Regions from separate parts of the Homo sapiens genome. Here region 2 is linked to region 1. The links come from fine-mapping of genetic effects on gene expression. A gene starts in region 1. The other region holds a variant in brackets. All regions are shown on one strand. Distances are between the middles of the regions.

Region 1 (14,603 bases):
CCCGCCTCCCGCCCCAACCTAGTGCCCGACAGGAAACCTCCCACCTGGCACTGCCCCCAACCAAAGTCATGAGGGCAAGGCTCCGGTTCCTGCCCTCACAGGGTCCCAGAAGCAAGGGCAGTGAGGACCTGGCCCACGTCCCTGGCACGGGCTGTCTGATTCTCCTTCGCTGTGGCGGGAAGATGGCCGGATTTGAAGGTAATACCCAAGACCCCGATTCCCGACAGGAGAGGCGAGGGGAACGGTCTCGGGAGCAGGCAGGCCCTGCCGCGGAGCCGAAGGCCTCCGATGGGAGCAGGCACGCATCTCTGAGTGGGGCCGCGGGGGTGGACACTCTGGTGCCTTCACGCAGGGGAGGGGGGCGGCAGGCTGCAGAGGAAGGCCAGGATCCACGAGCTGCGGCTCTCTAGGTGGGGCGAGGGGTCCAGGCGGGGTCTGATTAGGGCGTGGGGCCCCAGGTGGGGTCTATCTGGGGTGTGCGTCTGCAGGATTCTGCCCGTGGATTTTCCTCTAGCTTCAGGACAGGGTTTGGCTCTCCCAGAGGAACAGGGTAGGAGCCCAGCTCCAGCTGTTTTCCTGTAGGTCAGAGCCTGCAGTGGGAGGGTAACTGGGGCCTGTGGAAGGGGACTTCTGGGGTCAGACCCCAGGCAGGAGTGAGAGGCCCAGGTCCCTGGAGTTCCTGCCTCCAGGGCTGCTGACTTTGGGGGTACAGACAACAGGACACTGGACATCTTGGTCCCTACCCTTGGCTTCTAGGCCAGTGGAACAAGTCACTGACTTGGAAACCAGGGCCTGCCTTCTTTCTGCCTGGGGACCCAAGGTGCAGCTGGTAGTTGCAGTTCTGTGGGACGCTGGCACAATCACCTGCCAAAACCACCCACAGTGGTGGATGGGGGACAGGGCTGAGGTTGACACTCTGGAGCATGGATGAGCAAAGGGAAGGATGTGGCCTTGGATGTGGCTCTCAGGGATGCCCCAGACCTGGGATGTGGGCTTCAGGGTAGCTGGCCAAGGAGCTGCCCCTTCGGCTGGGTCAGCAGGCGGAAAGGCACAAGCATGAGGATGGTCTTGGTCCCTGGGGGAGGCACCTTCTCCGGAGGCCACAGCCCCCAGGATGCAGGGAGCCTGGTTTTGCCACAGCCAGCAACAACTTGACCTGGGGCTCCTGTCTCCACCTCCATGGATTCCAGCCAATCACAATTGCAAGCCCAGGGCAGGGCAGGCACGTGCTGGAGGAGCCCCTAGGCCCCATCATGTTCCCTCACTCTGTGTCCTCCCAGGCTAGAGTCTGTGCAGACAGCAGGGCCTGACTTTTCCAGCCTTCCTATGGGGGCCCACAGGTCCCACTCCCCAAGGAATCTGGGCCACTGCACGCCCTCACCCAGGCATGGTGGGGTGCACAGCCATTGTCCCCACACTTGCAAGTATATCCATCTATGTGCAGCTCCCACGTAGCCTTAGGTCTTGAGCATCTGCATTGTTTCTCTGACCCCTTTCCTCAGGAACACTAGTTAGCTGCAGCCTGCCTGTCCTTTCTCACACTTGATAGGGATGACACGCAAAGGGCAGGGGCTAACCACCGCACATCTGCAGCTCCTCACCTCGTACCCCAGGAGGTTGGTTCCCAGGGAGACGTGGCCTGTCAGGCCTCTTGCAGAGGTGAAATTCCCTTTGCGAAGGCCCTCACATGTGCTGACAGCATGCCTCCCCAACCCCGGACAGGATCCCAGGGCGGCATACTTGGGAAAGGGGCATCCTGCCTGACACTTCAAACTGCTGTCTAGCCACACTCTGCACAGCGGCTGCCCCACAACCCACCTGGCCCTGGTGTCAGCATTTTTTTTTTTTTTGCCAATCTGGAGTGAGGTATGCAAAAGGAGTCATGGTCATTGACTATGGAGTCATCGATGCCGGCTGCAGTTCAGCCGTTGCCCTGTGGAGGGCTCTATCTCCCCCCACAGAGCTTCTGGCATTTGCTGTTTTTGCTGCATCTGTAACAGCCCCAGCCTGAGATTCTCAATGCCTGCTTTAACCAAGAAAAAGTGACTGAGGCTAGCAGGGCTCTCGGGAGCGTCTGTGCACTGCCTCCTGACTGCGGAAGCATGAGGGTCTTCACATACAGTTCAGGAGCGCAGGACCAAGCAGCCTGGATGGTAATGGGCTGCGACCTGTGCTACCTTGTGCTGCCAGTTCGCACTGGGCCCTGGCTGCCCTGGGGTCCACAGTGCTGCCCTCATCATGACAGAAGCTGAAGGACAGGTCACCTCAGCTGCCTGCTGGCAGTGTCCGAGGCACATACCCCCACTCTTGGCCTCAGGTGTGCCTGTGTGGCAGGGTGCCAAGAGGCCCAAGCTCAGAGGTTACCGGAGGGGCTAAATGGGTGAGCCACGCCCACACTCAGCCTGGGCCTGGTCCTGGCAAGGCTGCAGCCGTGCATGTTTGCTACCTCCCCCTCCTCCCCGACAAAGCACCTTTGCTGCCCGTGGTTTGGGCAGCGCCAGCTCCATCTGTAGGAGGCCGGATGTCTCAGGGCATTCCCGTACAGACCAGGGGTCCCCGGGAGCTAGCAGGGGGGCCCAGCATACAGGTCCCTGGAAAGCTGTTGGCTGGAGCGCATTCATTCGACAGACACATATGAAGCACCTACTGTGTAAAGCTGCCTTTGCAAGCACTTCACATGATTCACTGAACAGAGCAGACAGAAACCCCTGCCCTTCTTGGGGGCTTCCATCCTAGACAAGTGCCAGCGGCCCCAGTTGATGCCACGGGCAGGCAATGTGCATAGCCATGGCACGTGCCGTCCCTGTGGATTCGGATGCCTCCTCCCCTGCTGGGGTGAGGCAGCCAACCAGGGGCCAACTGAAAAAATGCTGGACTCTCGGTCAAGGACAGGGCTGGGAGAGTGCCAGTCTCCACAAACTGTGGATCCACTAGAGGGTTCAGGCCTGGGGCATCCTCTGCAAGAGGATCCCACGAGAGTCCATTCCCCACCACAGGCCTCCGCTGCTCACTGCTGTGCCTTGATCGGCCTGGACGAGCCCGCCCACACCTCCATCATACCCAGTGTGAAGAGGGGCTGGGGACCCACCACTCCTGAGAACAGCATCCTTGGGAAGACCCAGCTGTGAGTGCACAGCAGGCACAGTCCCTCAGGCCCAGGTGAGGATTCAGCAGCAGATGGGATTCCACCCCATCTGTGGCCTCTCCAGCTGTCCACAGGCCCTGCAAAGGCAGGGAGGTGGCAAAGGCCAGCCCAACCCAGCCCTCCACTCTGGGTACCCAGAGGAAGGCGCAGGCCGCTGGTTCCACAGCCCATCACCTGGAGGTGATGGAGGCCAACCCCAGCCCTGCCTGGAGGCCCTGGTGAGCTTGCCCAGCACTGCTCCAACCCCTCCCTGAACCCACAGGGCAGAGCCAGGGGTGGTCCAATGGCCTGAGACGAGGGGACAGGGCTGGCCTATTAAGAGGAGCCACCAGAGAAGGCACACCAGACACAGACTCCTGTCAGCTCAGGCGTCCTGGCCTAAGGAGGCAGGGCCCCCAAAAGAGCCAGGTCCTGGCACCATCTCCGAGCTCCCAGCAGGCCTGCTGCAGGTCAGAAGGGCCACATCCCATCTTGGGTCCCTGACCTCATTGGGCCTCACCTGAAAACAGGCACCCAGGCAGTGGCCATGAACAGCCAGGCCACAAGCCTCGACAGGGGTGGGCCCCAGGTCACAGGGAGGGCGGTCTTTATTTCTGGAAGGGCCCCGGAGCAGGAGGCTGCCTCTCTTCCACCCGTCCTTCTATCCTCACGACAGGTGCTATGGGGCCGCAGCAGCATCAACAGCCTCTCTCAGCTGCTGCAGCAGCTCTTTGGGCTGTGGTGAGAACGCGCTGGTGTCCACTCTCTGGAAGTCGGGGTGCGCAACCAAGGAGGCCAGCACCTCTGTGATGCGCCCAACATCAAAGGCTGCCTGTTCGAAACCCAACCCAGCACCGTCCTCAGCGGCTGCCTCCCTCAGGACCAGGAGCCTCTTCTCAGCGATGACCTTGAGGAAGTGGTAAAACTCTTCAAAGTTGATGCCCGAGCAGGACCTCATGATGACCTGGGCAGAGGGAAGAGGCCAGTGAGCTAACACCATGGACACAGTCCAAGCTGCAAAGGACCCGACATGCGCCCAGTCCCCAAGGACGAAGAAGGGACCATTAAGACAGAGGCACTGAGAAGCTGCGCGGTGACCAAGGGAGTCTGAGCCATGCAGCCTAAAAGCCTCCCCCAGGAGGGTAGCCTCCATGCGTAGCCACCCCACCTGGCAGTGGTGGTGCCAGTCGGGCATGGAGTCCCTCCACTCGCTGACCTCCTCCTGCACGGCGCATAGCTCCTGCTGCAAGAAGCGCCACATGTTGGCCAGGTTGAAGCCATTGACCCAGTTGTGGTTGATGGAGATGGTGTCATCCTGGAAGGGGCACAGTGCAGGCAGGCCTGAGCCCATGGCAGGTGCCCCCTGACCAACCCACATCTCCTGCGCCAGGAACCCACTGTGGGGTCCAGCCCTCTGCAGCCAAGAGGGCCCTCCTGTCTCCCAGCAGGGCTTGCTCAGCAGGGAAGTGGGTGGCGGGCTCGGACCACCTCAGGCCACAGTGAACCCAGAGCAAGTAGACCCAGGGACCGGCAGTGGGTGAAACAGAGGCTAGGCCTCAGCGACACCACCTTGTGAAGGGGTCAGCCTCACCCATGAGCCACCCCATTCCAGCCCAGCTCTGGCTGGGAGAGTGGGGAGGTGGTGCTGCCGTCTTCCTGCAGGAAGGCCCCTGATAGGGGGCAGGAGAAGCAGCACATTACCAGGTTGTGCACCTGGTGGTGCCAGCCACTGGGCACAAACACCATCTCGCCCGCTTCCTGCGTGATCTCCAAGGGTGGGCCAGCAAGCTGGTTCCGTGGGTGCAGGTGTGTGTCGCAGAGTGCTGGGGAGGTCACGTCGTAGGGCAGGTTGCCGTGGCGGTCCCGCAGGGCCTCTTCCTGCCCTGGGGGGAAGAGGAGCCACTTCTTCCTCCCACAGACATTGACAGACCAGCTGAAGGAGCGGAAGATGTCAGCATGGAACGGGGACCTGCGGCAGCAAGAGCGCCTGGTTCATGCCTGTAGGGGCTGGTATGGGCTTTGCTTGGCACCCCAGAGGCCTGGTCCAACTGAAGGAGGGGTGGCCCCTTGGTCTCAAGGGATGGCACCCACTGTGAGGCCTGTGCCAAGCAGCCCCCCTCCTGCCACCCTGGGCCTCCCAGTCCGTTCTGTCACCAGGCCCCTTCGGGTTCCACTCCCACATCCGTGGCCTCACCAGCTGCCCGCAGGCCCCGCGTAGACAAAGCGGTAGTCATCCACATCCAGTGCATCCCAGAACTCATTCAGCCAGTCGGACGAGAAGTACACAGGCAGGGTGAAAACGTCCTCCACCGGAAAGTCCCTGTGAGGAGGGCGCAAGGGCACCACCGACAGCACGTGAGGCACGAGGAGACTAGGGCAGCACGAGTGGGGCAACTGAGACCAATCGGCTCCAGTGGAGCTTCCAGATGGCTGCAGCCCCCAAAGAGCCCCAGACCCTCCTCTGAGCCAGACGCTGCTGGCGGGGGAGGGGGCGGGGCAGTCTGACTACAATGGTTCTGCTTATTAGAAAGTACTGATCATGCCTATAATCCCAGTGCTTTGAGATGCTGAGGTGGATGCATCACCTGAGCTCAGGAGTTCAAGACCAGCCTGGGCAACATGGTGAAACCTAGTCTCTTTAAAAAAAAAAAAAAAAAAAAAAAAAGCCGGGAGTGGAGACGCCTTCCTGTAATCCCAGGTACTAGGGAGGCTGAGGAGATCTCTCTCAAAAAAAAAGGAAAAAAAACCATATTGACCTCCCAAAGAACAACACTTGCAGCCATGCGGAAGACAATCCAGTTTCTTTTAAACTGATTAAAGTGCCTCACGGGGAAAAATAGCTCCGTTGTGCACCCAGGGGCCACCTTCATCAGAAAGGCCTCTGGGTTCACGCAGCGCTAGGGAAGGCAGCGCCTCGGTGCGTCCCAAGCCCCATTACCTGCACAAGTGCCAGTCTTTGAGGTAGAGACAGCCCCTGGGAGAGGAGTAGCCCGCCTGTATGTACTCTTTCCAGTAGGTGATGTAGTCTCTGAGAGTCATGTGCTCTTTGGGGTTCGAGTTGTATTCCTGGACCCCACAGTTTGCAACTGGTACAACCACGTCTCCTGAAATGAAAGGCACGGTCCATGCCATCTCCCTGGGCCCCGTCCTCACTCCAAACCGTCTGCAGAGGAACTCTCCAGGGGCCACGCGCCTGGCCTCCCTCACCCTCCCTGGTGCCCCTCTCTAGGCGGGGGCCTCCCGGGCCTGGGTCCCGCCGGCCTTTCCTCCCCGCCCGGGGTCTGCGGCCGCCGCCCCACCGTAGGTCCGTAGCAGGTGGTCGAAGTCGGGCCTCCCCGCGGGCGTCACCCAGCGCCGCCGGCTGCCCCAGCCCTGCGTGAAGGCGCTGGAAAACACGCAGGGCAGGTTGGGCAGCAAGAAGCCCCGCACAAAGTCGGCGTAGGAGAAGGCGCCCGGCTCCGAGACGAAGGCTACCCGGCCCGGAGCCTGGCCGACGCCGGGGACATCGACCCCCAGGCCTCGGAAGTGGCTGTCGGCGAGGGCGCGCGTCTCGCGGTCCATCCAGCTCAGCACGGGTCGAAGGACCCTCCTCCTCACTTCCGCCGGAGCGGAAACGGTGAGGACCAGCCTCGGAACCAGAAGACGCAGGGCGCCGCGTTTCTGCCCCGCCAGCGCCTGGGGCTCCGGGCCTGCACGCATGCGCGCGGCTCGCCGCGGTCTTCACTGCGCAGGCGCCGAGCGGCCGAGGCGCCGCGGTCGGCTCTGGGACTCGTCTGGCGTCCCTCAGGTGAGCGACGGTGTTGGTCTGTTGGGCGCCCGGCCCAAGCCAAGCCGTAGCGTCCGCCCTCGGCTCAGTCCGCGCGCTGTGGCTGACACAGCCCGAGCCCTCCTTCCCGCATCCCCGGGGGGTGGGGGGTATGCGGGCTGCGCTGGGAGAGGGGCGGGGACAGAGGCGGTTCTGGGGGCGGGAGTGCGGCGGTGCGGGGGCGCCCAGGGATGATGGGACCCGGAGAGAACGGTGGGACCCAGAGGGAGAGCTGGGGGGCCCTGGGATGGTGGGATCTAGCGGAGATGGTAGGGTCCTGGAGGAGATGGTGGGGACCTGGAGAGGACGGTGGCACTTGGAGGGGATGGAGACGGGATCTGGAGGGGACGGTGGGACCTGGAGGGGATGGGGACAGTGGGGACCTGGAGAGGACGGTGGGATCTGGAGGGGATGGGTACAGTGGGGACCTGGAGAGGACGGTGGGGACCTGGAGAGGACGGTGGCACTTGGAGGAGATGGGGACATTGAGGACCTGGAGGGGACAGTGGGGATTTGGAGGGGACGGTAGCACTTGGAAGGGATGGGGACAGTGGGTTCCTGGAGGGATCAGTGGCACCTGGAGGGGACATGGGATCTAGAGAGGATGGTGGGGACCTGGAGGAAAATGGTGGGAGGGCTGGAGGGGGCAGGGTAACCTAGATGGGCGAATGGGGCCCACAGGGGACCTGGAGGGCATGGCAAGGGGCCCCAGGGGATGACGGGTGTCTGGAGAAGATGGTGGGGAATGAGGGAGGGTGTGAAATGAAGGTGTGGTGGGAGTGTGGGTAGGGATTTGGGGCTGTGTACACATGAGCAGGGCTGAAGTGGGAGGACATCGGAGTAGTGACATGAGGAGTGTTTTGCCAAACTTGCAACTGGAGTTACCCCAAAAGTGGCGGCAAGGGAGTTCCCCACACTATCCTCAGGTGGGACCAGTTGGGATACCAAAGAAAGAAGTGCTAAATGCATGGTAAGCCCAGAGCAGTTTTTTTTTTTTTTTTTTTTTTTTTTTTTTTTTTTGAGACAGTATGCAGTGGCACCATCACAGCTTACTGCAGCTTCCACCTCCTGGGCTTGATGAATTCTTTAATTCTGCTTCAGCCTCCCAAGTAGCTGGGACTACAGGCATGAGCCACTATGCCCAGCTTAGTTTTGTTTTTTTGTTTTTGTTTTTTTTTTTTTTTTTTGTAGAGACAGGGTCTCTGTGTTGCCCAAGCCGGTGTTGAACGTTTGGGCTCAAGCAATCCTTCTGCCTTGGCCTCCCTAAGTGCTGGGATTACAGGTGTGAGCCACTGCGCCAGGCCCTGCCTAGAGGTTTTGTTAGGGGAACTTTCATATAGAGTGGGCTGCGGTAGTCCTCGAGACGGGCAGTAAGGGAAAAGGGATGTCCTCCCTAGGTATGTCTCTTGGAAGGGGTGTGGGTTATGGAGTTTATAGGAAGGTTTCAGGAATTTGGCTCAGGGCCAAGGCCGTTTTCTTTGTAGTAAACCTAGATACTTTCTTCCATGCCTGGAAATGTTAAAGGCCCTGGATTGGGTTGAAGCCTGGTGGGGAAAACCTGTGGTTGGGGCACAGAGGGATCAGGGTACTCTGTGATTTTCGGCCAGGACACGAAAGTGGGGCCATGGGGGACCCTATGTGATGTATGTCTTGGTGTGCTGGAGAAATCAGCTCAAAGCTACCCACATGGATGCAGAAGGAAAGATAGCAGATTTATTGCCCCCGAAGCCTGGCAGGCTGTGTGCACATAGGTGCTCTGCGAGAGAGTGCAGAGTCTGGGCAGCATTTCCCAGGCGTCTTGACAGGGAGGTGGAAGGAGGAACAGTTAGAACCGCTCATCTCTCCCAGAGAAATGAGAGGCAGCTTGTGCTGGTTTGCACACAGTGCGAGGCCTTTGAGTTAGGTTTGGAGGTCTGATGACATTCTAGGGGCCATCAGACCATGACTGTGTCTTGTAAAATCTGGACACTGGGCTATCTCATTCCAGACCAAACAGAGGCATCCTAAGCGGGAGAGGGGCACCTGCCTTCCCTTTATGAAGCAATGGAAATGTTGTTTTATTTACTCTTATAAGTGGGGATATGGGAGGTTCTAGGAGTGCTGGGGCTCTGAGCCTTGCTGGAAGACTCTTTCCAAGGGGTGTGAGGTTTACCCAGGAGAACAGGGAGGAGCAGAAGAGGGAGGACCAAGGTCTGAGGAGTTGGAGGGAGGACTAGGAGGAAAGTGAGTTTTGGGAGTCTGAGTCCAGGTAAAGGTGGGATATGAGGGCAGGGACAGGAGGCGGAGAGTTGTTTTGGGGATTGTGTGATTCAGTGCGTGCTATGGTCCCTTCCTAGTCAGCCCTATTGTGGCTTGTGTGATCACGGTATGCAATTGTTTATTGGGGTTTTTTTTACACTAGAGAATCAGAATGTCTGGAGAAGTTACAGTTGCAGAGAAAGAATCACCTCCAGTTCCGTCCAGAGATGACTGGGGTTTTTTTGCTTTGGTTTTTTTTGGTTTTTTTGTTTTTTGTTTTTTGTTTTGTTGTTTTTGCTGTTTTGAGACCGCGTCTTATTCTGTCACCCAGGCTGGAGTGCAATGGCATGATCTTGGCTCACTGCAACCTCCGCCTCCCAGGTTCAAGTGATTCTCCTGCCTCAGCCTCCTGAGTAGCGAAGATTACAGGCGCGCACCACCACGCCCAGCTAATTTTTGTATTTTTAGTAGAGACGGGGTTTCACCATGTTGGTCAGGCTGGTCTCGAACTCCTGACCTTGTGATCTGCCCGACTCGGCCTCCCAAAGTGCTGGGATTACAGGCGTGAGCCACCGCACACCCAGCCGAGATGACCGTTTTTTATTCCTGGTGTAGAGCCGGCTTTTCTACATTCCTTCACACATACATTCATTCATTCATTCATTCTCTCTCTCCACTCTTCTCTCCCCCCAGTCCTTGCCTATACGTTCACGCACATGTATGCACACACACTCACACATACACAGTCTCTTTCTCCATCGTGTATAATATACATATATAAACTTTTGCTGCTTTTAGTCTTTTGTTTTTTATTTAACAATATGCTGTAACATCTTGCCACATATTGACCTCAATATTGACAATTAATTGACCTTAATTGATCTTGCCACATATTGTTCCTTAATTGCTAGTAGTCATTTGATTTTGGTTGTGGTGCATGCAGATCATGGGAGGCCAATGGGGAAGATGTGGGGAGCAGAGTGTTTATAATTGTCTCAAGATCTTGGAATATGGTTCCGAGTTTGCCTCATGGGGAAACTGAAATTCAGGTGGGCATTGCCTGGAAGGAGTTCCTGCAGCTCCGTGGTTGAGCCTGTTTCCTAAGAAAGGAGCATTTGGGCTAGCAGGTCCACAGCTCCCTGAGATCACTGAGCCCCTAGGACTTGGTGGGAGATGGAGCTCTCGTTCTTGAGATGGAACTCTGTGGTTTAGTTCGCTGGTCCGCAGGGTGCCCCCTCGGGTCAGTGTCACCACTGTATACGCAGGAGGCCTGGAGTGTTATCAGCTCTCATGGGACTGGAACATAGGCTTGTGTCACCCAGAGCCCGCTAGATCAGCCCTGGCATCGCTTGGGAATGGCAAGAAATCCACATTCTTGGGCCCCACACAATACTCCATTAGGATGGTTTTTTGTTTTTGTTTTAAAACGGGGTCTTCCTCTGTCACTCAGGCTGGAATGCAATAGCGCTATCTTGGCTCACTGCAACCTCTGCCTTCTGGGCTGAAGTGATCCTCCACCTCAGCCTCCCAGAGTGCTGAGATTACAGGTATGAGCCACTGTGCCTGGCCAGGACGGGTTTTAAGTCAGCACTTTGGAGAAAATGCAGTACGCTTTGTGCCGAATATGTGCTCCTCTGTCACTGTGTTGCATGCAAACAGCCCCAGTGAGGGTGTCTGCACTTTGTGGCTAGAGTTGGGAACCTCTGAGGGAGTGGAAAGAGGGTCTGAGGAGCAGGGGAGGGGAGCCTGGAAAGATTGGCCGCACCCTACCGCCCCTGTGGGCACACACAGCCACCACTGTTCTCACTTAGCTTCTTGGTTGCGAGGTAGTGGAAGGTGTGCAAGATGTTTGTTCTGTGACTGCGGAAATTAACTAAAAATAAGTTGTTTACTGGGTACTGAGCCTCACTCAGGGGACCCTTGAGTGATGGAAATGCTGAAAGAGACCCATTGTACAGATCGCCCTGCGTGCTGAGCCATCCCTGTGCTGCAGACTTCCTCCCCAAGAGCGTCACTTGTGTGGGTTGGCTGCAGACACCCTTGGGCCCCTGGCCATGACCTCCCTCGAGGATTCAGCTGTGTGTTCTCAGGGTCAGCGCGGGTCCCCAGGCCCACACCTGCACTGGAGGAAGGAGGTTGCAGATTGCAACAGGCAGGGACACCGTGAGGGCTCCAGGACCTGGACTGATTGCAGAACTATGTGGTACAGGAGGGCATAGGCACAGCTCTGTTTCCATGTGGTGTGGTTGTGGTCAACTCAGCACAAATTCATTGGGTGCCCATGGTGTGTAGCGGGCCTTGCGGCCCTCCCATGATAGTGCCTTCTGTAGTGCGACAGTCATGAAAGCACCAACTCTCTGGAGTTTTGCTTGGGCCATGGTTGGTGACAGTGCCTTAGGAAGGCGAGGAAGCCCTCCGAACAGAGACCTGCGGAGTGGAGCCACCAATGAGACTCCCTGGTGTGGAAAGGCTGCTGGGAGCAGAGGGCAGGGGAAGGCCAGGGCAGGGAGGCCGCAGGTCCTGCAGAGTCCATGAGGCTGCGGTAAGGAACTTGGATCTCATTCCAAGTACACAGGGAAAGGCTTTGGGCAGAGAAGTGACATATTCTAATTCTGTTCAATGACTATCTCATTGACTGCTGGAGGGGGAATGGGTGATGGGGACAGGATGAGGTCAGGAGGTTGCCTGAGATGTTGTCCAGGTGTGGAGGGAGGGAGGACTGCCTTGGATGGTGGAACTGTGGAAAGTAACTAAAAGTAGATTGTTTCCTGGAGATTGAGTCTCATTCAGGGGGCACACATATAATGGAAAGACTGAGAGAGACCCATTGTACAGATTGCAGTGTGTGATGAGTGAGTCCCTGTGACTACAACACCTTCCCCCAAGTGTGTTGCTTGTGCTGGTTGGCCCAGACAATGCCTGTGCCAGGTCAGTGATGTGGTCTTGGGGTGGAGGGTGGGGACACAGCTGCCAGGACATGCTCATGGCATGTTTCTTGAGGGGGAGGAAGAGAGGAGTCAGAAGTCCTGGGCCCGTGGTGACTTTACTGAGAGAGGAACTGACTCTGGTGCTGCTACACTGGGGTGCCCATTAGGGGTGGGAGGAGGTGCCCAGCAGGTGATAGGGGAGGAGCTGAAAGCTGAAGGAGGGGCTGTGAAGTTGGGGTGCCCGTTAGGGGTGGGGGCAGATGCCCAGCGGGTGACAGGAGGGGCTGTGAAATTGGGGTGCCTGTTAGGGTCAGGGACAGATGCCCAGCGGGTGATAGGGGAGGGCCTGTGAAGTTGGGTTGCCCGTTAGGGATGGGGGCAGATACCCAGCAGGTGATAGGGGAGGAGCTGATGGAAGGAATGTGAAGTTCAAGTGCCTGTTAGGGGTGGGGGCAGATCAGCGAGTGATCAGATGTCCAAGTTTGAAGCGTGAGGGAGTCTGGCTGGAGTGGGTGTTTGGGAGGCAACGGCTTGGGGGTGATGTTGAGTTTCTGGCCTGTGTTGTCTCACCTGGAAAAAGAGGGTGCAAGGAGGAGAGGTTGTGCCCTGTGCAGTCAGGTGCATGAGGAGGCTATGGCCAAGGAGAGTGGACGCAGGCACTCATGGAAGTGGGGCTGGAGACCTGGAGAGGGTAGTGGCCAGGGAGCCAGGGTGCAGTGACTCTCAGCAAGGCCCCTTGGCTCATGGGCCAGGTCCAGCTACCACATTTTTGTAAGTGAGGTCCTGTGGGGTGGCACACCCCATGTTGATGTCTTGTGTGTGGCCACTTTCATTCCACCCCAGCAGAGCTGTGTAGTGGTGACGGAGACCATGCGTGGTCCTTCACGGAGAGTGCAGTGCCTGGCATGGGAGGGCCGGAGAGGTCTGGGGGCTGAGAGAGAGAGGGTGGGATCAGGGCCCCGGGAGGAGGGTCTGGCCTTGGAGGTGAAAAGGGACCACGTTCTCCTGTGGCCTCTGTGTGGGGCCAGGCGTGTCGTCGGGTAGGGGAATGGCTGGCCGGCGTGGGGGCCGTGTTCAAGATTGGGCTGCTTCTGATGTTCCATGGGGTGTCTTCACTTCCGTCCTTGCACTGCATCTCCGTTGACTAAGGTTTTCTGGGAAAGAAGCCCTGGAAACCTGCAGTTGGAAAAGGGTGGCTACAAGTTTCTCTTCTTGCTTCTTCCTGGGCTGTTGTCAAACTTGAATACTTTCCTTATATTTATTGTTTAAAATGTGATAATGAGAAGAGCCTTGGTTATTCATGTCCTAATTTTTTGGTCTTTTTTTTCTTTTTTTTCTTTTTTTATTTTATTTTATTATTATTATACTTTAAGTTTTAGGGTACGTGTGCACAATGTGCAGGTTAGTTACATATGTATACATGTGCCATGCTGGTGTGCTGCACCCACTAACTCGTCATTTAGCATTAGGTATATCTCCTAATGCTATCCCTCCCCCCTGCCCCTAGCCCACAACAGTCCCCAGAGTGTGATGTTCTCCTTCCTGTGTCCATGTGTTCTCATTGTTCAATTAGACGGAATTTCACTCTGTTGCCCAGGCTGGAGTGCAGTGGTACAATCACGACTCACTGCAGCCTGGACCTCCCAGGCTCAAGTGATCCTCCTACCTCAGCCTCCTGAGTAGCTGGGACCACAGGTGCACACCAGCATGCCCAGCTTTCTTTTTGAATTTGAAAGATTTTAGAGCTGGTGACCTTAGGTCTTTTAGTTATTTTGACGGTGGGTAAAAAGGTCCAGAAGGTGAGGTGATGTTTCCAGAGCTGTAAACTGTGCTGCAACACCAGTAACAGGACTTCTCCGGGGAGGTTGTGCATAATTTCCCTCCACACTCCTGAAATACCTCCCAACCATGCCTGCTTAGCAATGGTTAGCACACATTCACTGTCCACACCGTGTCTAGCTCTCTGTATAGAGGTGGTGGTGGTGAGGCGTGGTCCCTCCCCTCGAAGGCCAGGTATGGCTGAGGTCTGGGCAGCCTCTTCAGCCAGGAGCATGGGCACAGCAACTCCAGGGCTGAGCAGGGAGGGCCACAGCCCCTCCTGTGGGTACTGGCTTGCCTGACTTTGAGGAGCATGACTGAGTTGGTGTAGTTTATCCTCCTCCTAATTCTGAGAAGCAGACATCTTTGTGTCCCCATAGTCCAGAGCCTGCTGGGTGGCCTTGCAGCTGCTGTGGCAGAACGGCATCATGGGTCCTGTGTGTGGCCTGCCGACCCTCGCCATGGCCCTGGTGGGGAGTGGGTGGCCCTGGAGGGGGTGGGTCCTGTGTATGGCCCACTGGGCCCTTGCTGTGACCCTGGGGGTGTAGCTAGGTTGACCATGGTACTGAAGGTCTTGGCGCCCTCTTCTGTGTCTCCTGAGGGGCCATGTGGGGTGCTCAGGTGAGTATTCCCCGGTTGCAGAGGAAGGTGCAGTGAGATACCTGCTGCCTAGGGCTCCCTCTGGCCTCCT
Region 2 (14,541 bases), 43 kb after region 1:
AAGGGCCTGGCAGGAGAGAGTGTGGGACCTGTGCTGAGGGCCGGAGGCCAGCACCTGACAAGCCCTCCCAAGGCCACTACCAGGCTGCACCAGCTGAACAGGTCAAGCAGAGACCGAGTGCTTGACCGAGTGCTGAGTGGGACTTCAGGCTTGGAGGACTCACCCCACCCCAAGCCTTTCCTGTCCTCCCAGTTGTCGCTTTAATGAAGGCCAAGTGTGCGGGGCAAGTGCTGGGTGTCATGGAGGCCCTGGCTGTGGAAGGTAATACGTGTTATAGCAGTGGGGAGTTTCTCATTATTCACTTTTTAAAAATTGTGGTGAAATATATAAAACACAAATTTTGCCATTTTAACCATTTTTAAGTGTACAATTCAGTGGAGTTAATGAAATTCACCACCATCATCCTGCACAGAAACAGTTTCTGTGAGACACGAACCCACGTTTCTGCCCCAGCCCCCCGCCCACCACTCTGCCTTCCCTCTCTGCCAGCCTGCCACTCTGGGTTCCTTACAGCAGGGGAGTCACGCAGCCCTTGTCCTTTTGTGCCTGCCTTATTTCACTTGGCATACGGTTTTCAGGGCCCATGCACTGAAAACCCCTCTGTTGGTGGATGTACGAGCTGTTTCCTCCTTTGGGCTGCTATGGAGAATGCCGCTGTAAGCGTTCACGTGAGCATCTGTTTGAGGCCCTGCTCTCAAGTCTTTGGGGTACACAGTGGTCCTCTTATTATCAAGGGAAATGCTCTAAGACCCCTAGATCATAAAGCTTTACCCCCATGTTTTCTTAGGAGTTCTGTGGTTTTGGTTTCCTCTTTAGGTTGTGAGCCCATTCTGAGTTAATGTTTGTGTGCGGAGTGAGGTGAGGACCCAGATTTATTCTTCTGTGTGTCCAGATCGAGTTTTCCCAACACCATCTGGTAAACCAGCTGTTCTTTCCCCATTGAATGGTCTTGACACCCTTGTTGAAAATCCGTTAGCCATAGATAATATGAGTTTATCTCTGGTTTCTCACTTAATTCCATTTTGCAGTCTAATGTCACTGTTTTGATTACTGTAGCTTTGTCATAAGGTTTTTTGTATTTTTTATTTTGAGACAGGGTCTCACTCTGTCTCCCAGGCTGGAGTGCAGTGGCATGATCTCGGTTCACTGCAATCTCCGCCTCCCAGGCTCAGGTGATTCTCCCACCTCAGCCTCCCAAGTAATTGGGACTATAGGTGTGCACCACCACGTCCAGCTAATTTTTTTTTTTTTTTTTTTTTTTTGTAGACATGGAGTCTCCCTATGTTGCCCAGGCTGGTCTTGAACTCCTGGGCTCAAGCAGCCTTCCCTTCTCAGCCTCCCAAAGTGCTGAGATTATGGGCATGAGCCACTGTGCCTGGCCAAAAAAAAGTTTCAAAAGTAAAAAATAAAATAAGTTAAAAAGAGAAAACAGCATATAGGATAAGAATATAAAGAAAAATTATTCTGGCACGGCTATATAGTGTTTGTGTTTGAAATTTTATTACAGAAGAGTCAGAGTTAAAGAAAATCGTAGTTTGTAATATACAAAAGTTACAGGAAGCTAAGGCTCACCTGTTATTGAAGAAAGACTTTTTAAAATAAATTTAGTGGAGCCTTAGTGCGCAGTGTTGATAAAGTCCACAGTAGTGTTCAGTCATGCCTAAGCCTTCACGCTCACTCACCACACACCCAGGGCCGCGTCCAGTCCTGCCAGCCCTGCTCACGGGAAGCGCTCTACACTGCGTGCCATTTCGTATCTTTATGCTGCACATTTACGGCACCTTCTCCACGTTTAGATGTGCAGGTAGTTAGCGTGGTGCTCCAGCTACTTGTGCTGCTTGGTGCTGTGGTGTGCCATGCAGGCCTGCAGCTTGGGGGGGTGTGCCCCGCTACACAGCCGGCCACCACAGGCCCTGCCCCCTCAGTGTGTGTATGTGTACTCTAGCGTTGTCCCACGATGAGACCCCGAGCCATGGTTCCTCAGGATGCATCCACATCATTAGGCAGCACATGACTATTTTAGTATATCATGATTTTGTTTTCATTCATCTCAAATAATTTACTAATTTCCCTTCCATCACCTGTTGGTTGTTTAATTTGTAAACACTTCAGTTTGCCGTGTTGCTAGCTTCCCTCTGCTGTGGTTGGAGGAGACACCTGCTGTGGATCCATCTCTCTAGGCTTGTTGAGGGCTGCCTCCCAGTCCGTGGCCCATCTCCCAGCCTGTGGCCCATGGAGGCATCTGGTACAGAGGAGAATGGGCTCCTGCGGTTGTAGGTGGAGCTCTCTGCACTGGTCTCCTGGGCCATGGGTTTATAGTGCTGTGCAGGCTGCCTGTTCCTGTTTCTGTATGGATCCTCTGCTTAGCTGTTCTGTTCATTTTGACACGTTTGCTAGCCTTTAAATGTGGTCAGCAGGTATTACGCAGTCTTGGTTCAGGCTGGGAAGTGGGTTTGTGCAGCTGTTGACACCATGTGTTGAAGGATGAAAGAGCAATGCCGGAGGTAGGTTCACTGGGCCAGGTGTCACCCACCGGGAGAGTGAGGCTGCAGAGTGGCCCTCAATGGCAGGGGTCAGCACTGTGGCTGCTGCTGAGCTGTGTGTCACAGCCCTGAGTGTTGGGCCCTGTTCCTGTCCCCTCCATGCACAGCAGTGTCCCGCCTCGAGGTGTAGGTGAGAGGCAAGGGGGACCGGGCCGCAGCGCGCAGGGCAGAGCATGAGGTGCCTGGCAAGTTGGGAGCAGACTCATTGGCCACAGCTCTGGCCGTGTTGGTTCAGGCTGGGAAGTGGGTTTTGTGGGGCTGTGGCCAACCTCTTGAAAGAGCCACATTTTAGTGCATTTTCAGTTTGTTTCCTATTTTGAGGGTACCACTGAGGTTCTTCCACGTGTGCGATGCACCTTCAGTGGCACTCAGTTCACATTCACTGAACACTTTAGTGAGGGTTCATCGTCCCTCAAGCACTCGGGTCTCTTAATGGGAATCTCCATCCCTGGTCTAGGAGCAGGGAGCGCTCTTGGGCAGGACAATCCAGTCCAGGCCCAGCTCCTTGCTCTGCATGGCGTTTCCTGTGCACGCCTGGAGTGAGCTCAGCTGGCCCGGCTGAATCAAAGTCCCCTCTGAGCAGCGAGGCCGCCGTGCTCATTGCCTCGACCCACCGCCGCGGGGGCGTCCTGAGGAGGGGGGCCCTGCATCTGCCCCCCCGGCTAGTGCACAGACCACCTTGGCCTCCAGGAATGCAGCGGAGGGGACTTGGGCGGGCCGCAGGGTGGTCTGCGAGTGCCGAGTGTGACAGATCGCAGCAGAGAGTGTTCTTTACGGCCTCCAGAGCTTGGCTGCGGTGAGAGCCAATTTTCCCCCTTTACATTCTCTGCAGCATATTAATGGCCCCAACTGGTAGAACTATTTTGAGTTGTAGACAGCTTGATTTATCCCAGCTCTGTTCTTAAATGGTTGCTAATTTCTCACTGCAAGAAAATTCACAGTTCCTCAGTGAGTCAGCTTAATGACACGGCCAGGGCAGCCCAGCTAACAGCAGACTGCTCTCGGTGCTTGGCTTGGTACGGTGATGTGCCGCACTCCGGCGTCGCGAGGCGAGCCAGAGCAGACATGTCCCATGGGACACAAGAGCCGATGTCCCGCAGAGTTTGGAGGCCAAGGCCGTGCGTGCCTCTGGAGCACTGTCTTCCCGGGCTGCTGGTGGCAGCGAACGCACAAGGCTGGGACGTCTTCAGGCCCCCAGCACTCAGCCTTGCCCTAATGGTGCGCGCATGGACACACAGCTGCTTTGTAGGTGGGCCCACCCTACTTCATTAGGCTATTTTTCTATATTTATTTTTTGCCTTTATAAACAAAATGGAAATGGTGAGAATGCTAAATTCTCTTGTTTTTGCTCTGCAGGGCTTCCGGCCTATGTCGCTGTCAACCCAGACAGTGTTGGTGATGCTTTGCTCCGAGTCTGCAGGAGCTTTGTGGAGACAGAGACTTTCCTAGCAGGGCAGCAAGCGGAAGCTTTTCTTCCAGAACAGCCTTTGCTCAGGGCATGAGGGAGCCGGCCAGGCCCACAGCGCCCAGGGCATCCTCCTCACGGATGTGTTGGAGGAAAGTGGCTTTGGTGCTATCCTGGGGGACCATGGCCATAAGCTGGCAGTGTCAGCCACGCATCAGTTGCGTTTCTTTGTTCAGGTTGTGCCTCTTGCTGCCTGCCTGAGTCACCCAGGGCTGCTCCCCTTCCTGGCTCTGACGCCCTCAGCGGGTCCCACAAGCCGCTCAGGACCACAGAGTCTGGCCATGGGTCTGGCCAGGCATCCACTGATGCTCTAAGCTGCAGCTTCTCTTAGGAACACTTCTATCAGGTCTGGCTCGCAGGCATGCCCCAGGGCCAGCCTGGATTGTACTGTCCTTCAAGCACTCCTTGCTCTATTTCTTTGAAGTTTATAAAAGTTTGTTTCCCCCAAAACCCAAAGCACTTTTAATCAGGTAGTTTCTGTGGAGGTCGAACTGGCTGGAAGGAAGGCTGGTTCCTGGATTTCTTTACTCATGTAGCAGGGACTCAAGGAAGTCTGATTTGCGCCTCGCCTCTGACTCAGAGCCCATGAAGGTTCCTGTGTGAGGCCACTGGCTGCCTCGGAGCTGACAGCATCCTGCACAATGGCTAGATGGCTTGTCACCCCAGGCCGCAGAGGAACAACTGTTTCTAGGGTTTGGCCAGACTTCACATTCTCCATTCTTTCCATCCCTGTTATGTGGAATGCACACGATGCCATGTAATTACTTCAGTCCCTTCTCAAAGGAAAAAGAATCTGGACCTGCACTCCAGGACACTAGCAGTTTGAAGGTTCGCTCAGGAATGTTCTTTGTCTGCAGACCTAGCAGCTGTACAGATCGCTCTTGTGTTTTTGCACTATTAATTAACTTCAAGTGCAATTTTGGCAGGCAGGCCAAGGGTCTCAACAGGCTATTTGGAATGAGTTCTCTTTTAAGGCCTTCAACGTAGTGAGACATTTTCAAATCAAAAAGTACAGCAGGAGCCAGCCTTTATTTTGTCTGTGTACACAATAAAATATTCCGCTTCTATAGGCAGATCAGCTGGTCTTAGTCACAAATAAATTGTGCATATTATTACTGTGCTTAATAGGCAAAACCCTAAACTATAGAAATTTTTGCTATTCCCACTGCTTTCTTATGCACTAGAAAAAGGCATGAATTTGATGTCTTTTTTAAAAAAAAAAGTTATTTTATTTTCTTCTTTATATTCTGGGGAGATGTCATAGACAATATTTTTAGGTTGAGAATAATTGTACATACTCATGGGTTACGTAGTGAAGTTTTCCATACATGAAACATAAAGTGATCACATCACAACCAGGGTCACTAGCACGGCCAGTATCTTGGGCACGCACCACTCAGCCTTGCAGGGAAGGTGGCGCACAGGGGTGCCGGGCTGCCTGGGTCTGTTGGAGATGACCCTGGGGGACAGGCGTCTTGTGGGGAAGATAGTGAACGGGAGTGTGGGGCTGTTGGGGTCTGTGTGGAGGTGGCCCCAGGTGGACGGGCTTCATGCCTCCCTGTGGTCCTGATCTCCATGTGGCTCCTGATCCCTGAGTTGTTGCGGGTCTCTGCTGGGCCTTGCCGTAGGTAGTGTAACCTTCATGGCGGCTTGCTAGGACTGTATATAAAAGAAGAATATGATGTATGTTTAATAATTATTGGCATTGATGTATGTCAAATGGTACTCTATGTCTATTGGGTTCAGTACAGTATTTTATTTGTTTTCCCTATCATTTTTACCTTTGAACATCTGGGTCAGGGTTAGACAGATTTAATACAGCTTATTCAGCTACTCTTAGTGTCATCCTGCCAAAGA[C/G]ACTCCAGTCAGAGAGCCAGAGCAGGTCCTGGCCCAGCCTCCCTTGGATGTCCCAGGGCCCTGCCACCATCTGTAAGGGGTATAGGACTTCTGGCGGTGACCCGGGATGTGGTCTGGGTCATGCCCCACAGCATCTCTATGTGCAATGAGTGTATCCTCAGGACCGGGGGCAGGTCACCCTCTCTGTGAAACAGATAAAATGTGCCACGTTCTTAGAACAATGTCAGCTTACATTGCATATCCAATAACTCAGCTTTCATTCAGGATAGCTATAGGATGGTAAAAACAGAAGACAAAGTTGTGTATGTACTTTAATCCCAAATTTGAGTTATTCGCAAGAGTGTATGGACATAGCGACGGGGGAAAAAGCCAGATAGGAGTGTGCTTGTGTCACTGATGGTGCCAGCCTAACAGTGGTCTGTATTATGGGCAGATTTTGTTTTATTCCTTAACTTCTCTCATGTTTCCTGGTTTTCTACATGCAGTTATTAACAGAAAAGACAAATAGTGGTGTCTCCTGATAGCACTGCACGCCATGGTCATGGAGAGGGCAGAGCTGATGCAGGGGCTAGTGGGAGGCATTGGAGCTGTGGGTCCTGGCAGGGGCCTTGGGCCATCTCCCCAGCCGTCAGCTCATGGGAGCCCTGTGGCCCTGAAGGACATTTAAATTCTAAATACACTTAAATCACATTTTAGTATGGTTGACGAGGGACATAGGGACTGAGACCAGATCCCGAGCGGATCCATGTCCCTGGCTTCCAGGAGGCCTCCTCACAGGATGTGGGCACAGGGACAGTGTGAGTGTGCAGCCCAGCCATCCCTTCCAAGGGCTGTGCCTGCTGGTTCCAGCAATGCCCTCAGGATCACACTGACAGCAGGGGCAGGTGAGAAGGGAGCAGGTTAGCAGAGCCAGCAAGGGGTGGGCTGAGGCTTTCTTCCCTGTCACAGCACAATTTGGGTGTGGGCCACGTGAGATCATGGGCCAGGCGGTGGAAAAGACCTCCTGTGTGAGGTCATCTGCCCGTCCTCCTGGAGCCACTGACCCCACCATATACTTTCCAGAGCCCCATCCAGCGATCTAAGTCATGACTCAACAGATGGAGTTTCTGCCAGCTCCCGAGGGTGTAGAAGCCCTGCTGTCTGGGACTGGGGCTCTAGTCAGGCATTTATTCATCTGTCTTATGACAAATATCTCAGCAGGAAGGCCAGGTTTGGAAAGGGACATGTGGCTCATTTCACCTCTGCCGTGTGCCTGTGAGTGACCTCAGCCCCCAACTCCCTGTGCCATCTGCAGAGGGGCTGGGCAGCTGGCCGGGGAAGGGCTCCTTCTGCAGCATGGCAGCCACCCTGGCTGGGCCCATTCCGGTTTTCACAGCTTGTTCGCATTTGTGATCTCATGTGAGCCACACCGTTCAGTGGAGGGAGCTGGATCTGACCAGCTGGCCCTCTGTCCTGGCCGCCTTCATACTGTTTCTCATGGGTCAGATGAAGGCCGGACCATAGGCGGGGGCATTGCTTGTGACCCTGAATCCCAAGCTGCATGTGTCCCACTGCTGGCCACCCTGCTGGGGAGCACTGAATCACCTGCCCTGGCTGCCCAACCCCACAGGATGCTGAGCCTCCCGCCATGTCACTGGGCGGAGCGTGGGGAGGCTGCTCCCCCAGGGCTCAGGAGTGCTGTTCCTAGAGGCAACCAGAGGAGCTGTAGGGGCCCCCCTCAAGATCACCACGCCCTAGACCTTGGATGGTCACTGCTGTCCAACTGGTGGGTACACAGCACTGAGGGTTCCTTCTCCTGACCTAAGCAGTGATCCAGAACTTTCCCTGAAAGAGGACATGGACATTTATTGCAAGTGGTGGGTCACTCAAGTTTCCTTTCCAGTGTATTCTTCTCCATTGTCAGGTGGGCATATGAGGCTTCTAGACCTAGGCTGAGTGTGTAAAGCAGCGCTTCACAGTGTGGTTCACCTTCCTAGATTCCTCATAGAACACAGCTCATTAAGCCACAGACACAGCACCAGCTCAGCCCTTAGCTCATCGCCCCTGCTGCAACCAGGGGACACATCTCTGTGCTAGCATTCCTGGGGCGGCCCACCCCATCCAGCCTTCCCTATCCACACCTGCCTGGCCCTGCGTGCCTCCACCTTCTGCATCTGCTGGGCCGGGGACCATCTCCCACACCCCCACGGTGCTGGCTGCCCTCCACCGTATGGAGAGTTTCATTCTGTCATTTGCATTGTGCATGAAACATCTCACACTTAGAGACAAGAGAAGGGGTTTGTGTTTCTTTTTAATCCTGCTTTCCCACTCCAGTCTGCAGTTAGGGACCCACATGCAGACAGGTCTCACCCAGCATAGTGGCTGGGTGAGAGCTGGGACTCAAATCCGAGCTGCGTGCCCAGGTCCCCAGCTGCCCCACTGTGGGCAGGAATTCCACACCCACATGCAACGCTCCCACAAGGTCAGCCAAACAGAGCACTCCGCAGCCTGGAGATGGCAGGCCAGGGTGTGGCCACTGCACCAGGCAGGAGGTGCGGGCAGGCAGCTGGCAGGAGGTGGGGCAGGCACCTCATCTCATCAGGCCTGTACTGGCAGAGGCAGAGCCATGACCTGACCCTGGTGCTGGGCTGCCGGCTCCCTCCTGCTGGCTCGCAGATGGCATCACCCAGGTGGTAACGCAAAGGCTCTTGGGTGTGTGAGAGGGGGAGATGTTGTCTGTGCTAGAGTTTGCAGAGATGGCAGCCTCTGCTGTGATCTTGTGCTTCTCCCCAGATCCTGAGGAGGATGAAGGGGCTGGCCCTGGAGGCCGAGAGTGAGCTGGAGAGACAAGACGAAGCCCTGGATGGCGTTGCAGCAGCTGTGGACAGGGCAACCTTGACCATCGACAAGCACAACAGGCGGATGAAGAGGCTGACCTAGGGGCAGAACGTCCCTGCATTCCTGTCTCACCCTGCACATCCCGCTGAGATGGAGGGCTGGGCGGCAGTGCCAGGGCTGCAGAGGCCTGTGGCCCTCCGGAGTGGTCTTCCTCTGGATGGGGCTGCTACTGTGGGGCTGCTTCTGCACCAGGGGCCTCCCCAGGTGTGCACCATGCCTGCCTCCCACTTGGCTGTCCCTGCTGCTGGGCAGGACCCGGCCACATGTTCTGCGGATGCTGCAGAAGTGTGGACCATGGCGGGACCCCAAGGACACTTGGCACAGGCCTGGAAGAGGCCGCCCTCGTCTTGTCTCGGCTCCCTTTCATGGACAGACTGGCCTTCTTAGCTGTACTATAAATTTGTGAGTGAAGTTAGAGCCCAGCTCACTTAGCCAGCTCACTTTGAGGGCATCCTATAAACACCCAACTGTTCTTTTATCGTCTCGGTTTTAGCCAAAAGTGAAATTAGCATGACTGCATCTTTCAAACAAAAATATTGATTTCTGCTTTTAGGGCCCCGTTTCCATCCAGAAATAAAGGGAAATGCTGGCTTCAGAGTGGTTTTTGAAGATGGGTGCCAGTGTTTCCACCTGGTGCCTTGTGTCTGGGTCAGTGGCCACTCCCTCAGAGGCCCTGGGGTAGGTGAGCATGGCCTCTGGCGGGACTGCGCGTCACATTGCGGGTGGTGCCCCTTTGCCATGCTGCTTTCAGATGCCCCGTGCAGGGCTGCAAGGAAGGGTGCGGGCACATGGGAGGCGAGTCCCAGGATGGTGCCACGGCCCAGCCTGTGGGGCCTCCACGCTGGTGCACCCAATGCCCAGTGGTGCTGCCTTCCCAGGGCTGCTCAGTGAGCCTCACACACAGGGGCCCTCGCAGCTTTGCAGCCAGAAGCCCCACGTTGAGATATCCTGGGCGTGCTCCCTCCAAAGGTTCTGGGGAGGACCCTGCACGGCCGCCTGCCACAGGTCCAGGGCCCAACCTAATCCAGGATGGCCTGGTCTTGATGTCACTCACTGAGAATGTCTGCTAAGACCCCAGTTCCACAGGAGGTCCTGCTCTGAGGCTCCAGCTGGACTAGGGGCTGCAATGCCAGTCGCCAGAGCCAGTGCAGGTGCCTGGCAGGAAAACTGGGAAGCAGCCTCTCTAGAAAGCCACAGCCCAGGGAGCTCTGATTTTTTTTTTTTTTTTTTTTTTTTGAGAGGGAGTTTCACTCTTGTTGCCCAGGCTGGAGTGCAATGGCATGATCTCAGCTCACCACAACCTCCGCCTCCCAGGTTCAAGCGATTCTCCTGCCTCAGCCTCCCGAGTAGCTGGGATTACAGGCATGCGCCACCACACCTGGCTAACTTTGTATTTTTAGTAGAGATGGGGTTTCTCCATGTTGGTCAGCCTGGTCTCAACCTCTCGACCTCAAGTGATCCGCCCGCCTCAGCCTCCCACAGTGCTGAGATTACAGGCGTGAGCCACTGCACCCAGCACTCTGATGTTATTTTTTGTTTGATCTGGGAAATTGTTTTCTGCTTTTTCTTATTTGGTTTATACTTAGCAGCCTGCAGAAGGAGACCTTGCCCTGTCCCCTCTGGGGTCCTTCCACTAAGGCCACAGGTGAGTGAGTGCTCCCAGCCTGTCTGGACACCCCAAGGAGGCCAGTGTTGGCCCTCAAGCCTAGCCCAAGGCATGCGGACACCATGGCCCCCCCTCCTGTCAGTGCTGGGAGCCGGCAGCAAGGGCTCACCATGCCTGCAGCCACCGTGCAGACCCCCATCAAGCCTGGAAGAGGCTGCACCCTGTCCTCAGGACCTCACAGTGTGAGTGGGGTCTCCTCTGTCCCTGACCCCTCGCTGTTCTCAGGACTTCACAGTGTGGGTGGGGTCTCCCCTGTCCCTGACCTCTCACTGTCAGCAAGTCCTTGCAATATCAGGTGAGGCCTTTTGTGTCACTTGACCATTCCTTGTCCACTGGACCTCAAAACTAACATGATATACAGTAGTAAGAATGTAGAAACTTTCCCACTAAAATCACGACCAAGGCCCATACATCCGCTCTCACCATCTCCTTTCAGCACTTTAAGCTCTAACAGATGGAACAAGGCAAGAAAAGGAAGTTAAAGTTTAATGATACTGAAAGAAGAAACAAACTCTCTTTGTTCACAAATGACATTTTCCAGGTAGAAAGTGTAAAAAGGGATCAAGAAAATCCCCTAGAATAATGAACAACTATTCAAGATTTCAAAATATACAAAAGTTAATCACTTTCCTATATACCAACAATGGATGAGTGGATTTGAAGTTAAAAACAAAGTACTTCTACTTTAGCACCCCCAAACAATAAAATACTTAGGTACAAGTCTAAAAAAAGTGTACTCTTTCTATATATATGAGAAAAACTACAAAACCCTGATGAACAAAAGAAGAACCAAATAAATGGAGAAAAATTCCATGTTTATGGATAAGAAGACTCAGTATTTTCAACATGTTTGTTCCTTCCAGCTTGATCTATAGATTCAATGCAATTTCAATCAAAATCCCTGCAAGTTATTTTGTGGATATTAACAGATGATCCTAAAGTTTTTATGGAGAGGCAAAAGACCCAGAATAATCAATTCAATACTGAAGGAGAGGAGCAGAGTTGGAGGACTGACGCTACCTGACTAGAAGACTTACTACAAAGCTGCAGTTACCAAACCAGTGTGTTATTGGTAAAAGGAGAGACAAATAATAGAACAGATTAGGGGACCCAGAAATAGACCCATATAAATATAGTCAACTCATCTTCTGAGAAGATTCAAAGGCACCACAATGCAGAAAATGGTCCCACAATGGTGCTGGGACAACTAGATGTCCGCATGTGCAAAAGAAATCAAACAGACCCTACACCCTAAACAGAAATTAATGAAAAGGAGCTGGGCGCGGTGGCTCATGCCTGTAATCCCAGCACTTTGGGAAGCCAAGGCAGGTGGATCACTTGAGGTCAGGAGTTCGAGACCAGCCTGGCCAACATGGTGAAACCCTGTCTCTACTAAAAATACAAAATTAGCTGGGCATGATGGCGAGCACCTGTGATCCCAGCTACTCGGGAGGCTGAGGCAGGAGAATTGCTTGAACCTGGGAGGCGGAGGTGAGACAAGATCACGCCACTGCACTCCAGCCTGGGTGACAGGGTGAGATTCTGTCTCAAAAAAAAAAAAAAAATTATTCAAAGGGATCATAGACCTAAAAGTAAAATGCAAACTAGAAATGTCCTGGAATATATCATAGGAGAAAATGTAGGTTACCTTAGGTACGATGATAGCTTATAAATTTTTTTCACTCATTTAATTGTTAATATCTGTGGGTACATAATAGGTATTTATGGGGCACATGAGATGTTTTGATACAGACATGCAATGTCTGTATTTTTAGTAGAGACAGGGTTTCTATGCTTTTTTACAAACAATCCAATTATACTCTTTTAGTAATTTTTAATGTACAATTTATTGACTATAGTCACCCTGTTGTACTGTCAAATCAAAGGGCATATTTCATCTTTCTAACTGTATTTTTGTACCCATTAACCATCCTTGCCTCCTCCCCAAACCTCCACTTACCCTTCCCAGCCTCTGGTAACGATCCTTCTACTCTGTATCTCCATGAATTTGATTGTTTTAATTTTCCACAAAGAAGTGAGAACATGTGAAGTTTCTCTTTCTGTATTTGGTTTATTTCACTTTATAACATAATGATCTCCAGTTCCATCTATATTGTTGCAAATGAGAGGATCTCATTCTTTTTATGGCCAAATAGTGCTCCATTGTGTGAATGTGTATATACTTTCTTATCCATTGGTCTGTTGATGGACCCTTGGGTTGCTTCCAAATCTTGGCTATTGTGAACACTGCTGCAACAAACATGGGAGTGCAGATACCTCTTTGATATACTGACTTCCTTTCTTTTGGGTATATACCCAGCAGTGGGACTGTTGGATAATATGGTAGCTCTCTTTTTAGTTTTTTGAGGAACCTCCAAACTGTTTTCCCTAGTGGTTAATTGGTGGCTAATTTACATTCCCTTGGTAATGGCTTTTTAGATATAGCATAATAACAAAGCCATGATCCATGAAACAATAAATTGACAAGCTGGACTTTATTAAAATTTAAAACTTAATGCTCTGCAAATGACACTGTCAAGAGAATGAAATGACAAGCCACAGACTGGGAGAAAATATTTGCAAAAGATGTCTGACACAGGACTTCATCCAAAATAGAAAAAGAACTCTTGAAGCCAGGCATGGCTCCCAACAACTCAGGGGGCTGAGACGGGGGAGGATCCTTTGAGGCCATAAGTTTGAGACCAGCCTGGGCAACCAAGCCAGACCCCCATCTCTAATAACAATGCTAAAATCTAAAAAAAAACTTTTCTGAACTCTTAAAACTCAGCAAAAATTAAAACCCAAGTAAAAGTGGTACCCAAAGACCATAACAAACACCTCACCAAAAGATATACAGATGGCAAATAAGCATCTGAAGAGATGTTTCACATCGCATGCCATTAGGGAACTGCAAATTAAAACAAGGAGGTACAACTACACACCTGCTAGAATGGGCAGAATCCAAAACACTAACACCACCAGTTGCTGGGGAGGACATGGAGCAACAGGAACTCGCATCCATTGCTGGTGGAAATGCAAAATGGTGCAGCCACTTTGGAAGACAGGGTTTCACCATGTTGATCAGGCTGGTCTCGAACTCCTGACCTCGTGATCTGCTCGCCTCGGCCTCCCAAAGTGCTAGGATTACAGGCATGAGCCACCGCACCTGGTCTAAGAAATACCTGAGACTAGGTAATTTATTAAAAAAAAAAAAAAAGGTTTAATTGACTCTGTTCTGCATGGCCGGGGAGGCCTCAAGAAACTTACAATCATAGCGGAAGGCAAAGCAGAAGTAGGCACCTTCACAGGGCGGCAGGAAGAAGTGAGTGAGTGCAAGCAGGGGAATTTCCAGATGCTTATAAAACCATCAGATCTCATAAGAACTCACTATCACAAGAACAGCATAGGAGAAACTGTCCCCATGATCCAGTCACTTGCCACCAGGTCCCTCCCAGCGACCTGGGATTACGGAGATTACAATTCAAAATGAGATTTGGGCGGGGACACAGCCAACCCCTATCATTGGGCCTTAATGACACCTGCAGAATCCTTTCCAGCCCTTAATTAGTGTTTGACTGAGGGGTTGAGAGAAGCTGCAGTGCACCAGGGCCAGGAGTCTCAGGCATCTTGGGATCCACCGCCCAGCGTTTCCTCCATCCAGAAGTCCATGGGCCAGCCCTCCCTTCTCGCTTACCTGGTCGGGGTGGATGCTTCATCCCTCCATGTACTGTGTGCCAGGCCTCAGGAAAGTACTTCCCGTCTCTGAATGTCTGTCTCTGAATCAATAACGTGGGGATGTCCACACATCCCACGCACAGTTCTGAAGACACAGTGTCCCACCCACTGGGAACCTCACCCCAACCCCGCACGCAGGTCCCAGTGAGTAGGCATTGCCACCTCTCTGCAATTTCTTGTCCCACTCACAGCACATGTCACCACCCGCCACTGCTGCCCTCCTCCCTCAGCTCAGGGGCTGATGGAGATGTACTGATGCCTCTCCTGATGGTCACTTGTGTTCAGACGTCCCACAGAGGTGGTGAGCCTGGGAGACATCCCCTCCTTTCCCCTCCCTTGATGTCTTTGAGGGAGGTGGAAGGCACGCAGCGCACTGTGGAGAGACCTTGCTGCTGAGA

What was found. PIP is the estimated chance that this variant, and not a neighbour inherited with it, causes the effect.
Region 2: its variant is fine-mapped to the expression of SNAP47 in whole blood (TOPMed, PIP 0.92).

What each region holds. Positions count from the first base shown.
Region 1 is chr1:227,728,589-227,743,191 of GRCh38, forward strand. It overlaps SNAP47 (synaptosome associated protein 47), which reads left to right and starts at 6,847. Exons shown (of 5, transcript NM_053052.4): 1 at 6,847-6,911. JMJD4 (jumonji domain containing 4) reads right to left here and starts at 6,714. Exons shown (of 6, transcript NM_023007.3): 1 at 6,424-6,714; 2 at 6,063-6,228; 3 at 5,319-5,444; 4 at 4,826-5,093; 5 at 4,293-4,439; 6 at 2,603-4,088. The coding sequence starts at 6,685. The coding sequence ends at 3,804. RefSeq lists enhancers at 1,733-1,782, 12,106-12,651, 12,652-13,196 and silencers at 6,236-6,435, 6,896-7,185, 13,184-13,387.
Region 2 is chr1:227,771,890-227,786,430 of GRCh38, forward strand. It overlaps SNAP47 (synaptosome associated protein 47), which reads left to right. Exons shown (of 5, transcript NM_053052.4): 5 at 8,638-9,337. The coding sequence ends at 8,784. Among named protein-coding and RNA genes, the nearest start is that of PRSS38, 37 kb to the right of the region's middle. RefSeq lists enhancers at 2,176-2,993, 6,218-7,000 and a silencer at 4,705-4,905. The variant C/G (reference allele first, on the strand shown) is at 5,866.